Linked DNA regions of Homo sapiens: all the other regions are linked to region 3. The links come from fine-mapping of genetic effects on gene expression. A gene starts in region 3. Each other region holds a variant in brackets. All regions are shown on one strand. Distances are from middle to middle. Region 1 has its middle 20 kb from the start of NCF4. Region 2 overlaps TMPRSS6 (transmembrane serine protease 6). Region 3 holds the start of TST (thiosulfate sulfurtransferase).

Region 1 (6,820 bases), 180 kb before region 3:
CCCTTTACAAAACCATCAGATCTCGTGAGACTTATTCACTATCATGAGAATAGCAGGGGAAAGATGCGACCCCATGATTCAATTATCTCTCACTGGTCTCTCACACAACACATGGGAATGATGGGAGCTGCAATTCAAGATGAGATTTGGATGGGGACACAGCCAAACCATATCAGAGCCTATTCATATGGAGCCGACTCTGTGTGTGTGTGGTGTGTGTGTGTGGGGGGGGGGGGTGGTGTGTGTGTGTGTGTGTGTGGGTGGTGTATGTCTGTGTGTTTGTATGTGCGTGTGGGCAGTGTGTGGGGGCAGTGTGTGTGTGTGTGTCTGTGTATGTGTGTGTGTGTGGTGTATGTATGTGTATGTGTGTGTGTGATGTGTGTGTGGGGGGGTGGTGTGTGTGTATGTGTGTGTCTGTGTGTGTGTGGTGTGTGTGTGTCTGTGTGTGTGTGTGTGAGTAAGGTTGTCAAGTTAGCAACTGGTCAGGCTCCTCCTGGGCTGGTCCCTGCCTGTCTTCAACACCACCTGGGTGGTCCCTGCCTGTCTTCAACACCACCTAGGTGGTCCCTGCCTGTCTTCAACACCACCTGGGTGGCGTGTGTGTCTCACGGCTGTTATGCTGCCTGAGCCTGTGTGTGACTGGAGCAGGAGCTGGCATTTCTCCAGCCCCTGTTGTCCGCCAGGTGTTTTGTGATGCTTTCTAATTGTTTCTCCTGGGAGCCTCCTCGCAAGCTGGTGCTGGGCTGCACTTTTGGCCAGCCTCGGTGTGCTGGCCAGTTCAACTCAGGAGCCTTCAGCACTGAGGGCCAGCCCCAGTCTGCGGTGTCTGCCCAGGACGGCCAGTCCCTGCCAATCCGGCAGGTCCTCAGAGGCCAGGCTGAGCAGCTGGGGCCTTGCAGCAGGACACAGGGTCACAGCTGGACCCAAGCAGAGAGCCTGCTGGGCCTGAGTGTCCAGGTGTGAGGGAAGGGCTTCCTCCCTCCAGAGAACAGGGATGCAGGTTCCAGCCAGGTAGACCTTCCTGCTTTGTGAGTGTGTCCAGAGCAGGGAGAGTTTCACCCACAAACCCAATATGTGACAGGAGCAGCATAGGGCATACCCACTCTGCTCACTCAAAGGATCCCCAGGAGCTGCTCTGGGGTGCCTGAATTCTCACCATCACAGGCTGGAGTGCAGTGGTGCTATCTCGGCTCATTGCAACCTCCGCCTCCCAGGTTCAAGCTATTCTCCTGCCTCAGCCTCCTGAGTAGCTGGGACTACAGGCATGCACCACCATGCCCTGCTATTTTTTTTCTTTCTTTTTTTTTTTTTTTTTGGTAGAGACGGGGTTTCATCACGTTGGCCAGGCTGGTCTCAAACTCCTGACCTCAGGGGATCCGCCTGCCTCGGCCTCTCAAAGTGCTAGGATTACAGGCATGAGCCACTGCGCCCGGCCCATCAGTTCTTTTTCACCATCAATCCACGTCTGACCTTTCCTGTGCCTAAGCTGTCATAGAGGGTAAATGCAAACCAAACACACTTCAGATGGAAAACACCTCACCCTTCTCCCAATTCTCAAACCTTGACTCACTTCCCATAGCACATGGAGGAGAATGCTAGCATCTTCCCACAACTCGCTCCACCTCTCCTCCCACCCAGCCCTTCCTCCTTCACTGCTAGTTGCCCTGCTGGTTCTAGAACATGCCTTGGAACCTTCTCCCCCAGATACCTACATGGCTGTGTCTAGGACCTCATTCCAGTCTCTACACAAATGTCACCTCATCAGAGGCCTTCCCCGGCCACCATGTCCGAAGAGACACCCAGCCCTACCCTCACTTCTCTCTCTATCTGCTTCCCTTGCTCCGAGGCTCTCTTGCTGCTCAACTGTGGATTATACATTCATTTGTTCCTCATTTCTCTCTGTCACGAGAAAGAAAACCTCAGGTGTTTCCCCACTGCCACAACAGTGCCTGTCAATAATTGAGCCCTCAGTAAATACCTGTAGAATGAAAGGAAGAATCTTTTCAATGGTGGAAGTAACTCAATACACCCATGGTCCTCCAGTGGCGGGACCCTAGTGCTTCTGAGGGAAGGAAGATGCTGCTGTGGCCAGATTCCAGGAGGGAAGGGAGAGCATGACCCCCAGCCCTCAGGACAGATGGGGCGTGGCTGCTCCCACCATGGCTCACTGAAGTGCATCTGATACACCGTGTTTGCCACTCCAAAGTTTAATTTAGCTGATGTCTTGGCTGTGAGCAACAGCTGGTAAATTTAGTTGGGGGATTAAGAAACGTATAAGATGCATAGCTCCTTAAAAGGAGCTGGATGTCAGGGGAAAACGAAAGCCAGGTGCATCCTGAATTTGGCTGTGAAAGGCGGGGCAGCCACCTTCTTGGAGCAGGCCAAGGGGCTGTGTTTGCTGAATCTTCTGAGGGGCGGCATCTCCACATGGAGGTGGCGGAGGGCGAGCCTGGGGACACATCCAGTGGCTGCCATGTCACCTAGCCACCCAGGAAATTCCTTCAACCTGCTGGCAAGGATAGGGACAGCTCTGAAGACATGAGTCTGCCCAGAAACCATAAACAAATAGATTGACAAACATTACTGTAGCAAATTAAAACTTGTGTGAGAGTTAAAAAAAAATGCCATGGACCAAGTTCAAAGCAAACAACAAAATGGCCAAATAATACTTTCAGACAAGTGCTAGAAAAAAGACCAATGCTGTTGATTTACAAATAGCTCATAATCAATAAGAAAAAGATGAACAGTCCAATAGAAAGGAGGGTCCTAAGGCACAGACAGGAGGCCAATAATACAAATGCAAAATACAAAAGGCCAATAAATGTATGAAAATATACTCAGCCTCCTCTGCCATCAGAGAAATACAAACCAAAATCAGAGACTTTTTTAACTTATCAGATGGTCAAAAATGTTTAAGTACAGTTGTATTCAGTGATGGCAATGAATTAAGAAAATGTAAATTTCTATTTTAGGAGGGAAATTTTGAGATTTCCATCCAAATTAAAAATGCACATGTGGCTGGGCATGGTGGCTCACGCCTGTAATCCGAGCACTTTGGGAGGCCAAGGTGGGTGGATCCCTTGAGGTCAGGAGTTCAAGACCAGCCTGGCCAACATGGCGAAACCCCATCTGTACTAAAAATTCAAAAATTAGCCGGGCATAGTAGCAGGTGCC[T/G]GTAATCCCAGCTACTTGGGAGGCTGAGGCAGGAGAATTGCTTGAACCTGGGAGGCCGAGGTTGCAGTGAGCTAACACCACTGCACCCACAGTCCAGCCTAGGTGAAAGAGCAAGACTCCATCTAAAAAAAAAAAAACAAAAGAAAAAGCTGCACATGCCCTTTGTTCCAGCAATTCCACCACTAGGAGGTAAGCCTCCAAATATTCTTTTATTTTTAATGTATTATATGACTTTATTATATGAATAAATGTATGAATAGTCTCCCAAATGAATGTTCATTTCAAAATACAAGCACACCTCCTTTGATTGGGTTCTGCTTTGTTGCACTTTGCAGATATTGGATTTTTCACAAATTGAAGTTTTGTGGCAACCTTGCACCCAGGAAGTCTATCGGTGCCATTTTTCCAAGAACGTGTGCTCACTTCATGTCTCCGTGCCACATTTTAGTAATTCTTGCAATATTTTCAGCTTTTTCATTATTATGATATCTGTTATGGTGGTCTGTGATCAGTGATCATTGATGTTACTATTGTAATTGCTTTGGGGCTCCATGAGCCATGACTATGTAAGATGGCAAACTTAATCGATACATGTTGTGTGTGTTCTCACTGCTCCATGGAATGGCCATTCCCTCTCTCTCTCTCTATTCCCTGAGACACAAAGGTATTAAAATTATGCCAGTTAATAAGCCTACAATGGCCTCTAAGTGTTTAAATGAAATGAAAAGTCCTGTCTCTTACTTTAAATCAAAAGCTAGAAATGGTTCAACTTAGTGAGAAAGGTATGCCAAAAGCTGAGATAGGCCAAAAGATGGGCACCAGACAGTTAGATCAGTTGTGAATGCAAAGGAAAAGTTCTTGAAGGAAATTAAAAGTTCTACTCCAGTGAGCGCACGAATGATAAGAAAGTGAAACAACCTTATTGATGATATGGAGAAAGTTTGAGTGGTCTTGATAGAAAGTCAAACCAGCCACAACATTCCCTTAAGCCAGAGCCTGATCCAGAGCAAGGCCCTACTTGTCTTCAATTCTGTGAAGGCTGAGAGAGGTGAGCAAGCTTCAGAAAGAAGCTTGAAGGTAGCAGAGGTTAATGCATGAGGTTTAAGGAAAGAAGCTGTCTCCATAACATAAAAGTGCAAGGTGAAGCAGCAGGTGCTGATGGAGAAGCTGCAGCAAGTTATCCAGAAGATCTGGCTAAGGTCATTGATGAAGGTGGCCACACTAAGTAAGATATTTTCCATGTGGATGAAACAGCCCTCTGTTGGAAGAAGATACCATCTAGGACTTTCATAGCTAGACAGGTGAAGGCAATGCCTGTTTTCAAAGCTTCAAAGGACAGGGTGACTCTATTGTTACGGGCTAATGCAGCTGGTGACTTTAAGTTGAAGCCAGTGCGCATTTACCATTCTGAAAATTCTAGGGCCCTTAAGAATGATGCTAAATCTACTCTGCCTGTGCTCTATAAATGGAAAAATAAAGCCTGGATGCAGTACATCGGTTTACAGCATGGTTTGCTGATCATTTAAACCCACTATTGAGACCTATTGCTCAGAAAAAAAGATTCGCTTGAAAATATTACTGCTTATTGATAATGTACCTGGTTACCCAAGGGCTCCGATGGAGTACAAGGAGATTAATGTCGTTTTCATGCCTGCTAACACAACCATTCTGCAGCCCATGAATCAAGGAGTAATTTCAACTTTCAAGTCTTATTATTTAAGAAACACATTTTATAAGGCTACAGCTTCCATAAACAGTGATTCCTCTGATGGAGGTGGACAAAATAAATTGAAAACCTTCTGGAAACGACTCATTGTTCTAAATGCCACTCAACATATTTTTGATTCATGGGAGGAGGTCACAATATCAACATTATCAGGAGTTTGGAAGAAGTTGATTCCAACCCTCATAGACGACTTTGAGGAGTTCAAGACTTCAGTGGAAGAAGGAACTGCAGATGTGGTAGAAATAGCAAGAGAACTAGAATTAGAAGTAGAGTCTGAAGATATGACTGCATTGCTGCAATCTCATGATCAAACCTGAATGGATGAGAAGTTGCTTTTTTATGGATGATCAAAGAAAGTGGTTTCTTGAGATGAAATCTACTCCTGTGAAGATGCTGTGAATATTATTGCAATGACAACAAAGGATTTAGAATATTCCATTAACTTTGTCGATAAAGCAGCAGCAGGGTTTGAGAGGACTGATTCCAATTTTGAAAGAAGTTCTACTGTGGGCAGAATGCTATCAAAGAGCGTCACGTGCTACAGAGAAATCTTTCTTCCAAACTCCTGTTAATGTTGATATTTTGTCTTGCTTGGTGATGGTGATGATGATGGCAATGATCATGGTGGTGATGATGATGATGGTGGTGGTGGTGATGAGGATGGCAATGGTGGTATTGATTATGGTGACGATAGAGGAGGAGGAAAAAGACCAGGGGCAGAGGAGGGACCAACACAAGAGAAGAATGAGAAGGAGGGGAAAAAAGGAAAGACCAACTGGAAGCTAGGATTGCCAGGCACTTTAGAGTCATAAGCTGATTCAATTCTTCTAATTATGCCATGAGACACAGAGTAGCCATCCCCCATCTGAATTTTATGATTGAGGAAACAGAGGTCAATGTTGTGAGTCGTCTGAGGTCTCCCAACATACAATAGTAGAGCCAACATTTGAACATTCAGCTCTGAAGATGTCTTTCTAGTTCCATGCCTTCTCACAGCGCCTAGCACAGTGTTTGGTACGTAGTAGTGCTCTTAGAATTTATTTCTAGAGGAGTTTGTATCTCAAAATTAGGCTTTGGGAGTTGCCGCAAGGTTTGTGGCCCATTTCTTTGGGAGTCCCCAGAGTGTGTTGGTTATTAAGCTGTCATCTCATATAAACCCCCGATCCACCCTCCCCCGTTCAGCTCCCAGTCTAAGGCTGGGATTCTGCAAACCCATTTCCGCACTGCCAGCTCCCTCCTGTTAGGCCCTGGCACTGGTGGGTGCTAGAGGGAGCCTGTGAGGCTGGAGGAGAAGAGCCTCGTGCTTTCCTTCCCACTTGCCCATCCGCTGAGCATCCCCTCAGCTTCACTTATTCACCCCAGCACTGGTCCCTCACCCTGGCAGCAGCACTTAGTTACCCCCTCTAGTTTTTTCTAGAACCCTCCAAATCAGCCCCATCACACTCCCTCAAGATCTGAGGGTCAGCTGGCCAGTGTTCCCTCCTCAGCCATCCACATCCCAGCTTGTGCAGTCTCTTTTTGGAATTTCCGGGTTCTGTTCACCACCACCTCTCCCCTTTGTTCTGACAGCCCTGGGGGCAAAGTTCCTTCCTGAAGTTACTATCTCTAGGCATCTCACTTAAGTCCCCCATTGCCTTTTCAGGCCCAGAGACCTGTCTAACCAATTCCCTATAGTAAATTCCCTCTGTTAAAGTAACTGGTGTGTGTGCTTTCTGGTTTTGACTGGGTCTTGACTGATGCATGAGGTCAATTTGATTTGGGACAGTAACCATCCTTCAGATCCCACTCTTGGGGAGAAAGAGGGACAAGACAGAGAGAGAGAGAGAGAGAATGAATCAGACTAACACCATTTTGCATCAAAAATAAGGCTTGCCCATGAATAAATAAATGGATTTTACAACTTACTTAGCCATCTCTTTC
Region 2 (6,820 bases), 47 kb after region 3:
TCTCCCCGGCCTCCTCTGTCTGCACCCGTGGGGCTGTGACTTACTCCTGCCTCCAGGGGCGGGGCGGGGCCCCCCTGGGACCTCTTAAGGCCCAAGGTGGGCCCCAGGACCTCTGGGCAGAGTGGACTGCTCATGGCAGATGTGTGGCAATGTCTGGCTGTGTCTCTCCGGCACCTGCGTCCCCTCTCCCGGGCTCCCCTGCTGCATGGTGGATGTGCTCCTTCCTGGCCCGGTCACATTGCCTCCTTGAGCCTTAGTCCAGGGGGTCACTCCTCCCACCCCACCTACCTCACAGGGTTGTTGTGAGGGTGCACAGAGGAGCAAAGTCCCTGAAGGCCCTCAGGCAGTATATAGGGGCCGCCCACCTTCAGCTGCCCTGGGATGGGAAGGACCCAGCCCGACCCCTGGGCATAACACTGTGTTTGCAAATGGAGATTCAGGTATTGGGGATGCAGGTTGTGGGGAGCTGGCCTGGCAGAGTAGGGGTAGTTGGCTTGGCCTTCTCTTTGGTGATCCCACCCCCAGCCATTTGCATTGCTGGCCCAGCGCCTGGCCTGGGGGGCGGGGAGAGGCAGCAGAAGGGGCTGGGCAGGGGCGGTGGAGGACTCAGGAACTGCCCGGGGAGAGTGGGTATGGCGGCTGAGCCAGGGGCCCTCCTGTGTTTGACTTCCCGGGATGGGTCCTTGCTTCTCAGCTGTGTCCGACCCCACCATGTAATAAAACCCAAAGGAACAGCCCAGCCTGGCTGTTGCCCTCTTTCTCTGGGCCACTTTTGGGGACGGGGCTAAACTAAAGGTGTGGTAGTCTGGTCCAAAGGAACGCGGCTTTGTCCCAAAAGCCCAGGGACGCTGCCCTGTTGTCATTTTCCTGTGTGTGTTGCAGGGAGGGCTTGGGGAACTGGCTATATCCTTTGCCCTGGGGCCGGATACCAGAGCACCTGCCCTACCTGGCCGGGAGCCAGAAAACAGAACTCTAGGGAGAGCCCTGGGCTGCCTCTGCCACATCCTAAACCTCTCAGCGCGCCCCCTCCACTTCTACTCTGACACCTGGGCCACCGCCATCCCTCCCTATTGCTGCCACCCCTCTGCCCAAAATCCTAGGAAATATAAACACCCCGCCCTCTCCCTTCTCTGACCCTGCTGGACCCAGCCCAGACCCCAGACCCTCCACCCACCCTGGCCAGTTCCTTCAACTCCTCAGTCCTCCCCGCTGCTCGAGGAAATCCTGCCGGGCAGTGAGCCCCTAAGGCGCAGGCCTTCCACAGGCTGGGGCGGGGGCACCCTCTTGCCAGCTCAAGCCTGGAGGGCCTCGCCACTTCCCCTGAGGACACTCCACTCCAAAGCTGGACTCATTTTTAGGGTCCAACTATCCTTGCAAAAGAGTCACCAGGAGGCTTGTTAGGAGAACAGATGACACGTCCCCCGCCCTCCAGGATTCCGATGAAGACTGAGGTAGGGCCCAGGGTGATTCCAGATCACCCAAGGTATTCTGCATGTGTTCTGCCCACCTGCTCTGGAGACGCTCCCTGCCCACCCAGCTGCTCCGGCTCGTCCTGGCAGGACCCAGGTGGGTGCTCCCCGTCCCTGGTTCCCCTTCTGCCTCATTCACCCACAGACCTGGCAGCAGCGCCCATGTTGGAAAAACCCCTCTTCAGTCTGGGGCCCCTCTGAAGCTCCCTCTCTCCCTTCCGCTCCCAGTTAGGCGTCTAGAAAGAGTTGTCCACACTTGACCGTCCACCCTCACCTCCAGCGAGCCCCCTGCCTCCATCACAACTGCCCCCAGGGGTCTAAAATCATCCTCCAGTCCATCCCATGGCGCTGCTCAGTCCCGGCCCATCCTCTCCATCCTGGAATCCTGCGGTGGCCTCCTAACCAGCCTCCCTGCCTGCCGCTCCCTGCACACTGGTGCCAAGGCTGGTTCCAAAATGTGAATCCTCTCATGTCACTCCTATGCTATAGAGCCCACCGTGGCTCCCCAGAGCTTTCAAGATCAAATCCTTGGCTCAACCCCAGGCTCTGCTATCCCGCCTCAGTTCGCCCCTCTGAATTCTTGAGTCATCCTCTCGAGCTCTGTTCTAACACTCACTCGGCTTGCTGGGTCCTAGCGTGCCTCATTCTTCCGGGACTGTGCCTTTGCACGTGCTCTTCCCTGCCTGGAATATCCTTCCCGGATATTCCCACCTGGACCACCTCTGAACCCCAGCTCAAGTCTCACAGCCTCCAGGCAGCTTGCCTTGACTTGCCCAGTCCACGCTCCCCTCCGGCCCCTTCCCACTGGATCATCCCCACTGCTCCTGGGGTCAGGAGCCAGGTCCTTCACCCCTGTGGCCCCAGCATAGTGCTGGCACATGGTTGGAGCCCAAGGCTTTATTCAGTGGCTCAAAGAATGCAAAGGAAGGGAGTGTCGCACTGGACGGGGCCTTGGCAGACAGGGAGCTGGGAGACAGGAGTCTATGCCACCTCCACTCCTAACCCCCAGTGCCACTATGAGGATGTCTTAACCGCCTCTCTGAGCCTCAGTTTCCTCCTAAGGTTCCAAAAGGAGACGATTGCTCCTCACATCCCTCTGACCTGAGGGTCCCCAAATGATTGCCTTCCTGGCATTTCTTCTGGGACCTGGGCAGCTGCCCTGCAGGCCCCAGCCCTCAGTGGCCACGCCCACTGCCACTGAGCCCACCTTGGCCTTCTGGACACTTGTCAAACAGGCTGAGCAGGAAGCAGGGGCTGCTCCAGTCAAGGGCATGAGGCTGGTGCCTGGGTCCCATTCAAACTCCAGCAGCGGGGCTTGGATCAGGCAGCTTTATTCCAAAGGGCAGCTGAGCTCACCTCCCAGTGAGGGTCTGGGCTGTGAGGGCCCAGGTGGCAGGCAGGGGTGGGGCAAGGACCCTGGAGTCAGGACTTCCCCACCTTTTGGCTTACAGTGGCAGCAGGCCCACCTGGCAGTCTCCAGGGCTCTGAGGGTCCCCTCCGATGGGAGCACCTTCCATTCCCAGATCCCAAGTTAGACCAGGGGCTTCCGAAGCTGGAATCTGCTCTCTGGAGGCAAGGCTGCCCAAACAGCCTCTGTACAGAGTGGGGCGCACCTCAGACACTCCTCGGGATGTAGAACCAGCATTCTTGCTGCTGAGCCACTGCCTTGCATTAGGCAGCAGTGGAGGAAGGGGACGGAGGAGAGAGAATTGGGAGGCAGAAGGGCTGGGTGTGGGCCTGGGTCCTCAGGGGACGTCTTGACCCCCAGCTGCTGGCACTTCTCCATCCTCCTGCCATCACTGGAGCAGACATCAGGGACGAGACAAGATGCCACCTCCTGCCACCACAGGGCCTGCTCTCTCCCCCACCCCCCGCCAGAATACTTGTCCCCCTGCTTGGCAGTTGCCCTGGGCTCTCTGAGTCCAGGAGGTGGGCCCTGCTTTGCAGGGGGGCAGTTCCTCAGGTCACCACTTGCTGGATCCAGCTGATCACACCTGTGATGCGGGTGTAGACGCCGAAGTAGTTAGGCCGGCCACAGCCCAGGCCCCAGCTGACCAGCCCCGCCAGGAACCAGCGGCCACTGAGTGCCTTGCACACCAGCGGACCACCTGAGTCACCCTGAAAGGGGGAAAGGAGAAAGGACTGAAGCAGGGTAAGGGCACCCCCTTTTCCAGGTGAAGAGCCATAGGGATTAAGTCCTGACTGTTGGGAATTGACTGGGTGCCAGAGTCACGTTCAGTCTTAAAGCTCTGCTTTCCCCTCGCCTGCTAAATGGAGAGAGCCCAAGCCAGCCCTCCCCGGCCTCCAGCCAGCCTGGGACCTCCTGGAACTGTGGCTGTGTCCCCACGCCCCCACTCTGCCTCCGCCTCCCTTCTGTGGCTGACACCCCTTTCTTCTTCCATGCATCCACCTCACTGTGGGACCCTGGGCCTAGTGCCTTGTGGTGGGCAAGGAGCAGAACTGGGTTTGAG[C/G]CTAACACCTGCCCATCACAGCATCTCTTCTGATCTGTGGCTCTGCAACCTTGGGCAAGCTCCTCAACCTTTCTAAGCCCCAGTCTCCTCTTCTGTAAAGTAGGGGTGGCCATCACCACCTTGCTGGGAGGATGGGAGGCTTCAGCAGGCTGATGTGAGCAAAGGGCCAGACCCTGGTGATGTGGGCAGCATCCTTTCTCCCTCCTCTCTCCCTCCCATGCCCGGGGGACTCACCTGACAGGCATCCTTCTTGCCCTTGCGGTAGCCGGCACACAGCATGCGTGGCGTCACCTGGTAGCGATAGACCTCGCTGCACAGGTCCTGTGGGATCAACTGCACATCCACTTTCTGCAGAGCGTTGCTGATGGGGCCTGTCCGTGGTCAAGGGCAGAAGTGAGATCTCAGGAGCCTGGAGCCCCTGTTCTCTATTCTCCCTAACATTATTCCCTTTGCATCTCAGGAGCCTACTTCTCTCCTGCTCTGCCCACCCTTACCCCTGCTAGGGTCGCACCTGCCCCTCTGCCTCCCTGTCACTTTATTCTAGCTCTTTCTCTGTGGGGTTCATGGTGACAGCCCCCGACCAAAGCCCATGTGGAGGGCCGGGCACGGTGGCTCATGCCTGTAATCCCAGCACTTTGGGAGGCTGAGGCGGACGGAACACCTGAGGTCAAGAGTTTGAGACCAGCTTGACCAACATGGAGAAACCCTGTCTGTACTAAAAATACAAAATTAGCTGGGTGTGGTGGCACATGCCTGTAATCCCAGTTACTCAGGAGGCTGAGGCAGGAGAACCGCTTGAACCCGGGAGGAGGGGGATCCGAGCCGAGATCGCGCCATTGCACTCCAGCCTGGGCAACAAGAGCGAAACTCTGTCTCAAAAAAACAAAAAAAAGAAAAAAGAAAAAAGCCCGTGTGGATGAGTGTCTTCCTCCAGCTTCTTGTCCCCCACCTCTGTCTGCTGAGGCACCTCTGGGCTCTGGCTGGCTCCTCGCTGCTCTGTTACAGCACCTGCAGATGTCTCCGAAGCCCACATCTGATCCCTTCATGGTTTCCTTAGAACTCTGCAGTGCCCCAACTCTGCAGTCTGCCCTAGCGCTTCTCCACGAGGGCTGCATATCACAGTCCCCCGGGGAGCCTTGATACGCAGTTTTTCTTGAAACTCCCCGTATGGTTCTAAGGTGCAGGTAGGAGGGAGAACTCCTGGCCTAAGATCCTTATGCTGGCCGGCAAGGCCCTGTCTGCCATTCTGGTTGCTCCTCGCCCAAGGCCCTGTCTGCCATTCTGGTTGCTCCTCGCCCAGGCACGCCTGCCCCCCACCTCAGCCCCTCTGGCAGGCTGCGGATGTTCTCACATCTTCCTGTCTTGGCACCTGTGTCTTCACCTGAATGTCTTTCCCCTTTGTCTGAATGTTGCCAACTCATCTTCCAGGCCTCAGCTTAAACAACCCTCCCCTGGAAGCCTCCCCTGACCCTAGCTGGGCAGGAGCCTCCTCTGTGTCTCCACTGTTCCTGCATCTCCCCATCCATGTCAGCTCTTACCACTGTCTGTCTCCCCCGAGAATGTTCTCTCTTCATCCTTATGTACCCTTCCCCTAACCCCACGCCTGGTACGTACTTGGTGCTCAGAAAGTGTCATTGAGTGACTGAATGAGTGAAGGAATAGTGAATGAACCAGCCTTTGCTTTGCCATGACCACTGCCATCCCCTTGGGTAAGTCACTGTTCCTCTGAGCCTCAGTTTCCCCATCCTTAAAATATCTCTGCGGCCCCGCCTGCTTCCAGATTGTAAGTCACTGTACACATTTTTGAAGCCACCAACACTAACGCTGCAGGGCATGTCTGTAGGTTTGCCAGCTGGGTCTGTGTCCCCAAAACTGTGCGGTGGCCGCCAGGGACTCTGGTCAGTGAACGTAGAAAGGGGAGAGACCCTGTTTCTGAGAGCAGTAGCAGGAAGAGCAGGGGCTCTGGAGGCAGCCAGCCCTGGGTTCTAATCTTTGCTCCAGTCCTCTCTGGCTGTGTGACTTACAGCAACATGTCTCTGAGCCTTGGTTTCTCCATCCATAAAATAGGGCCACAGCATCCGCCCGTAGGGCTGTTGGGTGGATTATATGAAGTCAAGTTCCCCTAAAATCCAGCCTGGATGTGGAAAGTGCTAGTAATTAAGAGCCTTCCACCCTTGCAGCCCAAGGAACAGCAGGTGGAGCTTGCACGTGGGCAGTGGCGTCCCAGACCTGCCCCTTTGCCCCACACATAACGCCCTTCCAGAAGGAAGGGAAGAGCTAGGAGGGGAGGGGCAGGGGCCTACAGGCCGCATTAAATGGTGGTTTTCTACCGTAAAATTCAGCCCAATTTGAATCCCAGCACTAGAGGGCCTATGGGGTGGAGCCCCGGGACCCCCAGCCCCGCCCTTCTCCAGGCCAGGTGTTACGGCGCAGATCCGCACGGTCTCCCTCCGCCTCCCGCCGCAAGTCCCCGCTGCTCACCGCCCTCGCGCAAGGCGCCCCAGCCCGTAATCCAGCAGTGCAGGCCGGGCTCGAAGAAGTGGGAGCGCGCGGGCAGGCAGACGGGGCGCACGGCGGCCGAGCGCACCACCGGGTGGTCGAGCTGCAGCAGCGCCACGTCGTAGTCATGGCTGTCCTCTTCGTGGTACGGGTGCAGGAGCAGGCGGCTCACCTTGAAGGACACCTCTCCAGGCCAGCGCGAGTTCTGCCACACCTTGCCCAGGAACACGGTCCACAGCACCGTGGAGGCCATGCTGGGGTGGGGTGGGGTGGGGTGGGGTGGGGTGAGGTGAGGTGGGAGGAAGCTGCCTCTCCCCATCCAGGGACCCTCAAGATAGCCAGATCCCCGCCCGGGACAGTGCCCTCCACACCCAGCCCTCC
Region 3 (6,820 bases):
TTTTTTTTTTTTGAGACAGAGTCTTGTTCTGTTGCCCAGGCTGGAGTGCAGTGGCGCGATCTTGGCTCACTGCAACCTCCACCTCCCGGGTTCAAGCGATTCTCCTGCCTCAGCCTCCCAAGTAGCTAGGATTACAGGCACGTACCACCAACGCCTGGCTAATTTTTTTTTCATTTTAGTAGCGACGGGGTTTCACCATGTTGGTCAGGCTGGTCTCGAACTCCCGAGCTCATGATCCGCCCACCTTGGTCTCCCAAGGTGCTGGGATTACAGGCGTGAGCCACCACGCCCGGCCGCCACTGCTACATTTAAACAAATGCATACTCATGTGGGTAGGGCTGGCGTGACTCTTCTCATTTTATGATAAGGAAACCCAGAGAGGCCAAGCAACTGGACTGAGGTCACTCCAAGGAGGAGTGGCTGAGCTGAAATGAGAATCCATGTTCCCTGATGCTCCTGAGGGAAACTGAAGGAGGTGTGAACACAATTACAGAGGAGGAACTTCAGCATCCCGGGCCTTCAGGAGGCATTACCCACTGCAGGCCATTCTCCTCCTCTGAGCCTCAGTTTCCTCATCTGTAAAATGGGTGAGGACATTGGGCCTGGCACCTCCAAGCTGTCCCTTCCACTTATTTCTTAGGTTGCTTCAGGGCAGGCTGGGAAGCAGCAAGAGAACCAATTCCACTGATCCTCCCCCATGACAGCTTAAATCCCAAGGAGAAGAGGCGTCTTGAACCAAGGCCAGGAGAGGGCTGCAGGCGTTCCCAGCCAGGATTCTCTGGGAGGTGCCAAATGAACTTGAATCTTCAACTCCAGACCTTCAGAGAGCAAGCAGGCAAGAAAAATATGGGGCCTGGAAAAAGCTGCGCTGGAAAGGGCAGAGACCCTGCTGTCCTGGCTCTGTCACTAACTAGCTATGCGGCCTTGGCCCCTGCCTCTGTGCACCTCAGTCTCCCCTCTGTCAGGTGAGGTCACCGTTCAGGCCCTCCAGCTCTAAGAGTGTGCAGAACAGTTTTCCCAGCATTCTCTCTGTAGGAGGTACAGACAGGAAGAGATGTTTTTCAACAAGTCAGGCAAAATGTTGCACACGAGTTAGATTCTGTAGAGAAGGAGCTCTGACTGAGGAAAGAGCCACCAAGGAGGTGCCCAGAGACAAGAGAGGGCCCTGCTCCTGGAAATGGCCAGGCAGGGACTGGAGGGCACTCAGCAGGAGTGATGGCAGCGAGACGGCAGTCCTGCCTCTAGAAAAGGGAAGACCTCCGAGGTTCTGTCTGGCTAGGAGGTTCTAGAACTCAGCATTTCCTCTCCTGAGGCTCTCCCCAACCCTCAAGCAGTATCCAATCCACCTGGCCTTCCCTTCCACAGGAGGGGAACTTCTGAGTCGCCTTCCTGGGGCAACTAGCAGAGGGGACTCCCTCCTGGCCCTGGGAAGTAGGGGTAGGGCAGCATTGGGTGCGTCCTGGTTTATAGCCCTGGTTTGAAACAAGGCAGCATTGGATTCGAATCCTGCCTTCCACCACTTTATGTCCTGGCATCTCAGTCCCCCCACCCCCCGCTGCCAAAACAGGGGCATTGAGCTTTGTTCGCTGAGATAATGCGGTGCCAAGTGTCTGGCATGAAATGGCAGCTGCTGTTACAACTCTGCCGACGGGCTGCAGCTGCCTGGAAAGGTTATGGAACCTTTGCAAACAGCAGGCAGGGGCCCCAGGAGAGCTAGATTTGGGGAGAGGGGGATCCTGCGGGGAGGGACACTGTTGATGTCTATAAGGGTTTCTGCGGGACGAGAGAGGCCTGGAGAAGCTGGATGTGTCCGTGGGAGGTTTCTGTACAGCAATGCAAACGCTGGCTCAGGGGCATGACACCCTTAGGTATATCCTAGTACATGTGGGGCAGCTGGTGCCTGGGAGTGGAGGTGGTGGACATGTCACCAGTGACTTCTGCTCACACAGATGCTAGGTGGCTTCTTAGCACATGGCTATGAGGACACATTCTTGGGTCCTTGTGCATCCAAGCTGAAAAAGCCTTTAGGTTTGTCTCCACTTTCTGGTTTTATCGATGGAAAGACTGAGGCCTACATGGGAGGATTGAAGGCATGGGACGGACCCTGGAGAGGGTCCCAGTCATCCTTACTCCCTATCCTTCCATGGGGCAATACTCCCCAGGGACCACCCAGCACTGGGACACCTACCTACTGCATCCGGCTCCGGCTCGGTGCCCAGGAACCGCCCTTGAGACCTTGAATCCACCAGCTGGAACCTCTTAGATTCAAGGTTCTCCAGCACCTGCTCGTAGGTCTTGAGCAGGGAGCGGTCCAGTGTGGCTTTGAAGACGGCCGGTTCTGGGCGTGAGGGCTCGGATGTCACCGGGTGGCCCTCCTTCAGCCAGTTCCGGAAGCCACCATTGAGCACTGATACGGTGCGGTGGCCAAACACACGGAACATCCACCAGACCCGGGGAGCATAGAAGCTGCCCAGGTGTTCACCATCATACACCACCACGTGCGTGTGGTTGCTGATGCCCAGGCGGCCCACATACTCGGCGAAGCCAGCCTCGCTGGGCAGCATCATCTCGTAGGGCGACGCCGTGTCCCGGCACTCTTCTATGTCAAAGAAAGAGGCGCCGGGTACGTGGCGCTCGAGGTACTCCTTGCGGGCCTCTCGGGTGCCTGGTGAGTACCAGGACGCGTCCAGCACCCGCAGGCCGGGCCCCAGCTTGCCAGTCCTGATGGACTCCGCCAGCCACTTGGTGGAGACCAGCGCCCGGTAGAGCACCTGATGAACCATGGCTTCAGCTCTGCGTGTCACCTGGCACGGGTGGGAACCAGGAAAGAGAGACAGGCGTGAGGAAGGAAGTCGGTGTGTGCAGTAGGGTGAGGCCTGGGAGAAGCTCTTTCTCCCTCCGCACTCCCCCGGGTTCCTTGTTTACAGCAAGCCAGCGAGGCTGGGGCGTGCAGCGGGATAAGTTTGCAGATTCCCTCTGGAAAGCCGGCCCCGCCCCTCCCAGCCGGCCCGGGGGCCCAGCGCAGAAGCGGGTGGGGCAAGAGTTTCCGAGGACTCCAAGTAGGGGCGCTTCCTGGGGCGGGGATCTGGCTCCTAGAAGTTACAGTACTCGATCCCGCCAGGAAAGAGCAATGAAAGCATGCCCGGGATGGGGGGCGATGGCATCTTGGGCTTAGAATCCCCTTTCCTTCCAAGGCAGAGGGGGTGGGCGCACGGCTAGGAAGCTCCGCGAGCCGCGCACACGCCATCGCCTGCGGCCTCCCCAGGCAGCCCGAGCTCGCCCGCCTCCAGAGTGCCCGAGTCCGGCCCGTAGCTCGCTGCCCTCTGCCCTAGGTGGATCAGGGGTTCCCGGGGCACCCCGTCCCACTCTCGCAACGCTATCCTTCCCCGGGCAGCAGGTGGCCCGACCGGCGGCCCAGGCGCCCGGCCGCTGCCCCCGCCCCGCACTCACTCGCCCCGGACGCCGCGCTGGCGCTCGCCCCGGCCGGCTGGAGAAGTTGGCCGGTTCAAACCCCCGGCCGCAGCTCCCCAGGCGGCGCGCACCATCGCGCCACCGCCAGAGGGGGACCCTGCGCCGCCCGCCGCCATCCCGCGCCTCCCCCGCGCGGCCGCTTCGCGCCCGGCACCTGCCAACCTCGCGCGCGGGGCCTCCGGGACCCGCGGGGGTCTGAGGGGGACGCCGGGTGGCGCGGGGGCCGCGCGGGCCTGGGCTGGGCGGAGCGGGCGTACCCCCACGGCCCGGCCAGTGGAAGGCGCGGGCAGCAGCGGCTCCGAGTGGCCGCGGCGGTGGGCTGTGCCGGAGTCTCCTCCCTTTGGTCCGCTGCAGGTTGGTGGCGGGAGGAGGGGACAGCTGCGGGCGCGGGGAGGGGGCGCCGCGCCGCGGGGGCCATGGCGGAGCCAGGAAGCCGGGAGTCCGAGACCCGGGTAACTGCCGCGGCGTGGCGGCTTGCCTTTCTGGAGGGGGAGGGAGTGGCTCTTTGGGGGTGCTCGGCGCGGGGCTCCCGCGCGGGACCTGGGCGGAAGAGGGGGCTTAGTCTAGGAGAGAAGGCGCGCCGCTACGTTGGCACTAAGGGTGACTGTCCGCTTGGGGCGGCCTGCCGGGTGGGGTCGTGGCGAGTGGCGGGTGGGGAGCCTTGGGTGGAAGTGGGTGACCTGGTGGCACCAGAGAGGGCGGGGGAGAGAGAGGAGGACAGGGAGACGAGACCCCGCTGACCCAGAGGCCCCAGGAAGAGACACTAGCCAATAACTTGTTAGTGAGTGAAAGGAACTAACATTGTCCAGCCCTGCTTGGTGTGGCACTTTGCTGGGTACTCCCGTGGTGTGACTTAATTCCCACAATAACCCTGAGGAGTAGGCCAGAAACTTACTAAGACAGGAGAGAGCGGCAGAGCGAGTTGCTGGAGGACACACCCAGAGTTGAGGCCGGGCCTGATCCCTGGTCTGAAGCCCACGTGGTACCAGCTGCCTTTGTTTACCTGGCTCTTCCCTGAAGGTTCATGCTTTTTAAAAAATTGCCTGTTTTGAACTTAGCCCGTTTAATCATAAGTTGATGTAATTCAATTTTTAATAATAGCTGTATTTAACAACCAGTTGGCAAAATTCCTGAAAAGCTCGCCATGGGCTCTTGCAAACTGGGGGACACCATTGCCCCTCCCTAGCTTTTGCAGAGGCCAGCCTGGAAGCTTTCCCTGTTTCCCAACCCTGACCTTTTGTTTTGTTTTGTTTTTTGAGACAGGCTGTGGTTCTGTGGCCCAGACTGGAGTGCAGTGGCGCCATCTCAGCTCACTGCAACCTCCGCCTCCCAGGCTCAAGCGATCCTCCCACCTTAGCCTCCCAAGTAGGTGGGACCACAGGCATGTGCCACCATTCCCGGCTAATTTTTAAATTTTTGGTAGAGATGGGGTTTCACCATGTTGTCCAGGCTGGTCTTGAACTCCTGGGCTCAAGTGATCTGCCCATCTCAGCCTCCCAAAGTGCTGAGATTACAGGCATGAGCCACCATCCCTGGCCTCATCCCTCTTTTTAAAAAAAGGTTTTGTTCTAAAATGCTCACAGCAATCCTCAAAGCCTAGTGTCTGGTGGTTGGGGGAGGGGGTGGGCAGGAGGGACCAGGCTGGGGAGGTCCAAGAGGAGCTCCCAAGCTCTGCTCCTCAAGGGGTACCCTGGATCCAGCCTGCGGCTCACGCTTGCTTCAGTGCAGCTGTGTATCCTTCTGACATGAGCCTGGGGCGGTTACGTCCTGGGGTCCTCCACTCCCAGGGCACCCTCACCTACAGTGATCCCGGCTTCTGAATCACACAGGCACCTGGTTTCTACCCCTCCCTGACACCCACAGCCTGCCTTCACACCCTCCTTTATGGCCCACAGACCTTTGTGAGAAGTGCCAATCAAGCAGGGAGACTGGGGCAGGGTGACCTCAGATCTCTGAAGTCCCACCAAGCCCTGAAATTCTAAGATTTTAGATTTGCTGCTGGCAGTTCCAGGGCCACCAATGAGAGTAATGGAAGAAATAATGCAATATTATTATTATTATTATTATTTTGAGATGGAGTCTCACTCTGTTGCCCAGGCTGGAGTGCAGTGGCGCGATCTCGGCTCACTGTAACCTCTGCCTCCCAGGTTCAAGCGATTCTCCTGCCTCAGCCTCCCGGGTAGCTGGGACTACAGGCTCATGCCACCATGCCCAGCTAATTTTTGTATTTTTAGTAGAGATGAGGTTTCACCATGTTAGTCAGGCTGGTCTTGAACTCTTGACCTCGTTATCCGCCCGCCTTGGCCTCCCGAAGTGCTGGGATTGCAGGTGTGAGCCACCACGCCCGACCTAAACCGTTTTTAATGATTATTAAAACCAGCCAGATGTAATGCATGGTGGTTGCCCCTCTACATTTATTGTTTAATCTTGGCTCTAAGAGGTGGAGGTGAGAAGCTCCATTATAAGGAACAGAAACCACCCAGAGACCCTACACACCCACATCACACAACCAGTTAAGCAGTGGAGTGGGGTTTACATTGATTTGGGGGGCTCTCTGGCTCCTAAACCAGGGCTCTTTCTACTGTAAATGGATGATTGGGTGAGGGAAACAAGGATCCTCAAGAATAGGGGACAGTGTTTGGGGGTGCACAGGGGCTGCTGTGGTTCCCACAATAGGGTTCCTCAGGAAGGAACCTGCAGCATCTGCCAGCACAGCGCCCCCTAGCTGTGCTGTAACGCAGATAATGGGGATCACCCCTTAGCCAAACACCCCTTGGCAGCCTCCCTACCCTAAAGACCGTGCTGAGGCTTCCTGGGCCCCTGGAAAAGTCAGATTAGTCTGGACTTCCTCCTACTCCAGGAAGCCTTCCCACCTCTTCTGCTGCCACCCCAGGCAAACATAGGGGCCCTCTGTGCTCAACACTGAATTCTAAACTATCCTCAATTTCACTCTCTCTTGCCTGCAGCCTGACGTTTCCCCCCAGGGCTTGGCAAAGGCAAGAGTGCCTCGGTGTCCGGCACAAGGCCTGACCGCATGGGTGAAGTAGGTTCCTAAAAGCCAGCTGCGGCCAGACTGTGGGGGTGGGCACAGGGTGTCACCCTAGAACTCATTAGGCCCTGGTCATCATGGCACCTGGGGCAGGGGAAGTCCAGCCTGAGGGGTCAAATTCTGGCTGCAAATCCTGAGGCTGCCTCCTGTGACCACGGGCAAGGCACTTATTCTTCTAATTGCCAGTGGCCTCATTCATAAAGCAGGCGTCCTAATACCCGCCCAAGGCTGCGGTGCCTAGCATGTGACCTGGCCCACAGAGGCACTCGGTCCACAGATGTTGTTCTCTACCTGCCCCCT

What was found. PIP is the estimated chance that this variant, and not a neighbour inherited with it, causes the effect.
Region 1: its variant is the best candidate, but not a certain one, in a credible set for the expression of TST in whole blood (TOPMed, PIP 0.73).
Region 2: its variant is the best candidate, but not a certain one, in a credible set for the expression of TST in whole blood (INTERVAL, PIP 0.64).

What each region holds. Positions count from the first base shown.
Region 1 is chr22:36,837,974-36,844,793 of GRCh38, forward strand. No RefSeq gene overlaps it. Among named protein-coding and RNA genes, the nearest start is that of NCF4, 20 kb to the right of the region's middle. The variant T/G (reference allele first, on the strand shown) is at 3,175.
Region 2 is chr22:37,062,652-37,069,471 of GRCh38, forward strand. TMPRSS6 (transmembrane serine protease 6) reads right to left here. Exons shown (of 18, transcript NM_001374504.1): 16 at 6,422-6,693; 17 at 4,175-4,311; 18 at 2,785-3,587. The coding sequence ends at 3,429. It overlaps KCTD17 (potassium channel tetramerization domain containing 17), which reads left to right. Exons shown (of 9, transcript NM_001282684.2): 9 at 1-739. Among named protein-coding and RNA genes, the nearest start is that of KCTD17, 14 kb to the left of the region's middle. RefSeq lists an enhancer at 614-1,437. The variant C/G (reference allele first, on the strand shown) is at 3,941.
Region 3 is chr22:37,015,950-37,022,769 of GRCh38, forward strand. It overlaps TST (thiosulfate sulfurtransferase), which reads right to left and starts at 3,498. Exons shown (of 3, transcript NM_003312.6): 1 at 3,451-3,498; 2 at 2,189-2,804. The coding sequence starts at 2,783. MPST (mercaptopyruvate sulfurtransferase) reads left to right here and starts at 3,793. Exons shown (of 3, transcript NM_021126.8): 1 at 3,793-3,923. The coding sequence starts at 3,888. RefSeq lists enhancers at 2,041-3,016, 3,045-3,546 and silencers at 3,020-3,079, 3,240-3,629, 3,660-3,779, 3,790-4,109.